Regions from separate parts of the Homo sapiens genome. Here region 1 is linked to region 2. Evidence: fine-mapped QTL for protein levels in blood plasma. Region 2 holds a variant in brackets. A gene starts in the other region. All regions are shown on their reverse strands.

Region 1 (2,912 bases), not on the chromosome of region 2:
ATGCTTTCAGTAGAATGGTTCACCTTATAACCTCTACATGGCAGGATGCATAATCACCAGTTTATTCTGTAATACCTGAGCAAAAATTCAGCCTAGCTAATATGGCCTCTTTCACCACACTGACAAGATAAGGATGACGTCCACTTAGTTGGCCACCACCAGTATCATAATATTAGATAGTAGTTTAAAAATATATAATGGAAACTAGCTGGTGACCACCACTTTACTTCCAGTTTTGAAATTGCTGACTCATCCTATTTAAGAATCTGTTGTAAGCATCATTTAAGAATTAGTTTGGTTTAGACATACTTTGAAGTCAACATAGTTTTTAATGCATGGAATTACATAAAGTCAAATGAACTATATACCCTTGCTACATGCGGTCTTAATAACACTTGAAAAAATTGGCTGGATTTTCATTTAAAAGCCACCTTGAATAATGATTTTATTTCAGTGAAATTCGCTCGTATTTTTTCCAAGTTCCTTCGACATTCTAGATACACTATCGCTTCTCTAAGAGATAACTGGCTGGCGCAGAGTTGGAACCAATACAGACCCAGGCCTGACTGCCAAGCACTGACCATTCCTGCAAATTTCTCTCCCAGAAGACGTGTGCAAGCAAAGAAGAGGGCGATAATTTGATTTTGCAAAGGTAGGGATAGACGCGCACGCACAGACATCTGCACCGGCCCACAATGAGTTTGGGACGGGAGCAGTTAGGAAGTGGGGAGCTGCGGTACCTTTTCTTGGCCTTCCTGAGCTTGACTGGGTGCAGAACTCAGCCCTCAGGGCTGCGGGACAGCGTCTTCTCAGAAACCCGCAGCTTGGCTGGGGCCGCCAGACGCGCGTCCCTCACCCTCCCAGCGGAGCGCGGGGTGCCCGGCCCGCCTTGCGCTAGCCAGCAGCCTGGAACGCCGTAAGAGCGCAGCGCAGTAGGGAGTCGCACGCCAGGGGCAAAGGGACCTGCGATCTGCGCTCCTCCGGAAGCGGGAGGATGGCTAGGAGAGCCTCAGAAGTGTCATTAAAGGAAAAACCAAAAATTGAAGTTGCGGCTAAGTTTTCCCCATGAGAAGGCGGGGCAGCTCGGCCAGTAGGATAGACCGGAGGGTAACGCTGGAGCTGGGAGGGGCCCTGGGCGTAGGCTTTCGGGGAAAATTCCATCGCCCTTTCAACCACCACCACTCCCCTCCCAAGGCAAAGAAGCCGAGCTCTGTACCTCCATCGAGTCCTGGCTGCAGGGTGGGGGGCGACAGCCACCGCAGCCGGGAGGGTGCGGCCACCCAGTTCCCTCCCGGGGGGCGCCGGACTTCGAAGGCAGTGAGCGAGTCAGCTGGGATTCCCCCGGGCGCCTGCCACCCGGAGTCCCAACCCCTGGCGAAAAGAAAAGTGAAAGAGAAAGAGCCGGGAGCATAGGCGAAGACAAACACCTCCCGCGGAGACTGGGGGTGGGGCGGGTGGCGGCGGCTCCTGGATGACTGACTGCCCCAGGTGTCACTGCTTCCCGGCCTGTTTCCGTCCCTGCCGGGGCCTGGGGCGCAGAACTTGCAGGGCAAGCGCAAGGACATCGAGGAGCCCCAGCCCCGCCCTGCAGGAACACCAGCCACCGGTCTCCTCCTCTACCTGCCGGGACACCTGCAGAGAAGGCACAAGGATAGCCGCATCCCAAGCGACGGGCACCATGTGGGAAGCTTCCGCAGCTGAACCTGGAGACCCGGGCTGGGCTGGCGCGCATCCAAGTCTTCCTGAGGAAAGGGAAAAGGATGTCGGATCTGGATGCTGGGCGGCTACTCTAGACCGGCCTCTTGGTCCCCGCACAGGCTGCAAGAAGGAAACTTTGAAGTCCAACTAGGGGAAATGTTGGAAGAAGACACCCGGGTGGCAGCTTTGTGCAAGACAGTTGGTACAGGGAGTGAACTTAGAGCAATGAGCCTCTCTGCGGATCACTTTTCCAGCCTATTGTGTAGTCCAGTGTAAAATATCACACATGGTCCCATTTGATGGAAGCGTGAGATGTTGTTCTTGTAGTATTTTTACATTGGAGGAAGGAACTGAGTTGAGGCTGAGTGATTTGCATGCCATAAAGGCAGTAGCAAAGATCTCACGCTTAGTTTTGAAAGTACTTTGCAGAATCTTGCACTCTTGTGAATCACTGAAAATCCCTCTTGTACGGTGCTTTCCAAATTTTCAGAGTCATGGTTCAGAGAAAATGATGTCTTCCTGGAGCGCAGTTTAATTTAGTTTAAAATTTAATTATGTTTTTAATTACATAAATATGATAAATATCAAATAGAAAAATAATAGAAATTATTCACTTTCCATGTACATAAAGTTCCGTATAATATAATTTCATATTTTTATGAAAAATTTGAGTTTATTTTCATTAACTCAATTTTTTGATATCAGTTTTATATTTGAAATAATTACTGATGGACTTTTTGATGAGAATTACATCAAACTCTAGATAGTCTCCATTAACAAAATAAGTGAGGTATAAAAATGCAAAAACAGTTTTTACAACCATTCAAAATTTCACCATAGTTGGAAATTATATTTAAGAATATGAAGCCATCATCCATTTCTGTTCATGACGATGTCATGTTGAATTTTCTTGTGATGGTGTCAATGGATTTCAAGACCAGTCAGAATTTTTCATAGCAATACATTGAAGCTCTGATTTGCAGAATGAGCATGCACTGGGAGAGCAAGACTGCAGCTGGTTTGGATCTCACCACAAGAATATAGCAGCCACGGAAGGACTGATATGCATATGTGTGAAGATAGAGAATAGGGATGAACAAGTGTATCATGTGTCCCAACCTCATTTTGGACTGTTGCAGAGCTTCCTGGACTCCTGCCATGTAAACTCCTCTAGCACCTCTTTCAGCTCCTTTAATGGATACTGTGTTCTCTGC
Region 2 (2,912 bases):
AACTAGCGGTTCTCCAGTTCTGCCTTTCACTTTAACCTTCATTGTTTAATTGCTTTTCATTGAGAGCACCCATGATCTTGCAAATGGGAGGAGATTAGAAGCTACCTGTTTTACTGCCTGCTTCTCTCCCCTGGCAAAATCTCAGAGAACAGGGTAAAGACAATGGCAAGTTCTTGCTGAGTGACACCTGGACGCTAGGACCTAAGCACTCAGTGGGTGGGGAAGTGTGGGAGAAGCCAAATTCCTCTCCACTGGCCTCTCTTGAAATGCAAAGTACTGGGACGAGGGTGACCAGGGCTCCAGTCTCCTCAGTGCACCATGCCTAAGGTAGCACCTTTGTCCTGCAAGTTGGGACTGAATAGCGGAAGAGAAACTGCTACTCTCAGCTGTACTTGCCTACTATCTTAGATTAAACAACAGGTAGCTGGAGGCAGGATGAGAAACGCTGACCTTTTCCTCATCCCAAAGATAAAGCCTTCTTTTTTATTTTTATTTTTTATTTTGAGACGGAGTCTCACTCTGTCGCCCAGGCTGGAGTGCAGTGGCAGGATCTCATCTGACTGCACCCTCCGCCTCCCGGGTTCAAGCTATTCTTCTGCCTCAGCCTCCTGGGTAGCTGGGACTACAGGAGTGCGCAACCAGGCCCGGCTAATTTTCATATTTTTAGTAGAGACGGGGTTTCACCATTGTTGGGAACAAGCCCCCCAAAATCTGGCCATAAACTGGCCCCAAAACTGGCCATAAACAAAATCTCTGCAGCACTGTGACATGTTCATAATGGCCCTAACGCCTGCACTGGAAGGTTGTGGGTTTACGGGAATGAGGGCAAGGAACACCTGGCCCGCCCAGGGCAGAAAACCGCTTAAAGGCATTCCTAAACCACAAACAATAGCATGAGCAATCTGTGCCTTAAGGACATGCTCCTGCTGCAGTTAACTAGCCCAACCTATTCCTTTAATTCGGCCCATCTCTTTGTTTTCCATAAGGGATACTTTTAGTTAATTTAATATCTATAGAAACAATGCTAATGACTGGCTTGCTGTTAATAAATACGTGGGTAAATCTCTGTTCGGGCCTCTCAGCTCTGAAGGCTGTGAGACCCCTGATTTCCCACTTCACACCTCTATATTTCTGTGTGTGTGTCTTTAATTCCTCTAGCGCTGCTGGATTAGGGTCTCCCCCACCGAGCTGGTCTCAGCACACCATATTGGCCAGGCTGGTCTCAAACTCTTGACCTCATGATCCACCCGCCTCGGCCTCCCAAAGTGCTGGGATTACAGGTGTGAGCCACTGCACCTGGCCAGATAAAGCCTTCTGACTAAGAGCTGCAGGGAGAGGGAGCCCTGTCTGGCAGCAGCAATCTGCAGCAGATTCTCTGCCTTGCTGATCTGATAGGGAGGAGAGTGGTGGCAGTCTTGGTTCAGATACCTGAGATGCTTGCTTTTCCTACAGAATATTCATAGATTTTATTGAATAAGTGTTTCTGCATTTTCCTGTTGCCCTTATGACAATTTCTAGAGTTTTTGTTTGTTTGTTTGTTTGTTTTTGAGACAGGATCTGCAGCCTTGACCTCCTAGGCTCAGGCAATCCTCCTGCCTCAGCCTCTTGAGTAGCTGGGACCATAGGTGCATGCTACCATGCCCAGTTATTTTTTAATTTATCTGTAGAGA[C/T]GGGGTCTCCCCATATTGTCCTGGCTGGTCTCAAATTCCTCGGCTCAAGCAATTCTTCCACCTGAGCCTTCCAAAGTGGTGGGATTATAGGTATGAGCCACTGTGACCAGCTCGTTTCTAGAGGTTTTAAGTAGTTGGGTCTTTATAGTTTTCACAAGTCTTACTGGAGAATAGGTCATGGAGCTCCTCATGCTTTCATGCTGGAATTTGGTATTCTACTTATGTCTGTTTTTTTTGTTTTGTTTTGTTTTTTGTGATGGAGTCTCACTCTGTTGCCCAGGCTAGAGTGTAGTGGTACAATCTCAGCTCACTGCAATCTCTGCCTCCCAGGTTCAAGTGATTCTCCTGCCTCAGTCTCCCGAGTAGCTGGAATTACAGGCATGTGCCACCATGCCCAGCTAATTTTTTGTATTTGTAGTAGAAATGGGGTTTTACCATGTTGCCCAGTCTGGTCTTCAATTCCTGACCTCAGGTGATCTACCTGCCTTGGCCTCCCAAAGTGCTGGGATTACAGGCATGAGCCAATGCCTAGCGTGTTATAGTCTTTTTGTTAAAGTTCTGAAAACATTGATTTTTACCATTTCTGCCAGTATTCTTATGGCATTAATGGATGTAAACCAAAAATAAAATTCTAAGCCCCCCAACCACCTGAATGGATTCCTCCTCTTGGCCAAGGGCATTCCAAAATAAACCTGAAACATTATTTCAGACCATCATGGGAATGGGTGGTGGGACAGGCCACATTATACCTTCCTCTCGTTGAAATTCAGGCACAACTGACCAGCATTAACATTAAAACAGAGACCTTGAGACGGAGAGAGCAGACTCTGTAGCAATAAGATACCAACATGACAGATTGCAGTCACAAAATAAATAAAAAGGCCGAGCGTGGTGGCTCATGTCTGTAATCCCAGCACTTTGGGAGGCTGAGGCATGTGGATCACCTGAGGTTAGGAGTTCGAGACCAGCTTGACCAACATGGTGAAACTCCATCTCTACTAAAAATACAAAAAATTAGCCAGGCGTGGTGGTGCATGTCTGTAATCCCAGCTACTTGGGAGGCTGAGACAGGAGAATTGCTTGAACCCAGGAGTTGGAGGTTGCAGTGAGCCAAGCTTGTGCCACTGCACTCCAGCCTGGGCAACAGAGTGAGACTCTGTCTCAAAAAAAAAAAAAATAAATAAATAAAAATATTTTATCCCAAAATATATTGCTTCGACATATTTTGAAATGGGCCTGCAA

Direction of the effects. Positions count from the first base shown, and alleles are read on the strand shown. Strength reflects both the effect of a copy and how common the allele is.
In carriers of allele T in region 2, the plasma level of the protein whose gene starts at base 1,382 in region 1 tends to be lower than with C alone (weak association).

What was found. PIP is the chance, under the fine-mapping model, that this variant and not a neighbour inherited with it causes the effect. The UK Biobank Pharma Proteomics Project read protein levels with antibody pairs (Olink). The fine-mapping took linkage between variants from a reference panel, not from the people measured, so its PIPs are less certain.
Region 1: it holds the start of IL15, and the variant in region 2 is fine-mapped to the plasma level of the IL15 protein (UK Biobank, PIP 0.99).

The regions. Positions count from the first base shown.
Region 1 is chr4:141,635,053-141,637,964 of GRCh38, reverse strand. IL15 (interleukin 15) reads right to left here and starts at 1,382. Exons shown (of 8, transcript NM_000585.5): 1 at 1,217-1,382. RefSeq lists an enhancer at 1,380-1,469.
Region 2 is chr3:128,660,697-128,663,608 of GRCh38, reverse strand. No RefSeq gene overlaps it. Among named protein-coding and RNA genes, the nearest start is that of RPN1, 11 kb to the right of the region's middle. The variant C/T (reference allele first, on the strand shown) is at 1,671.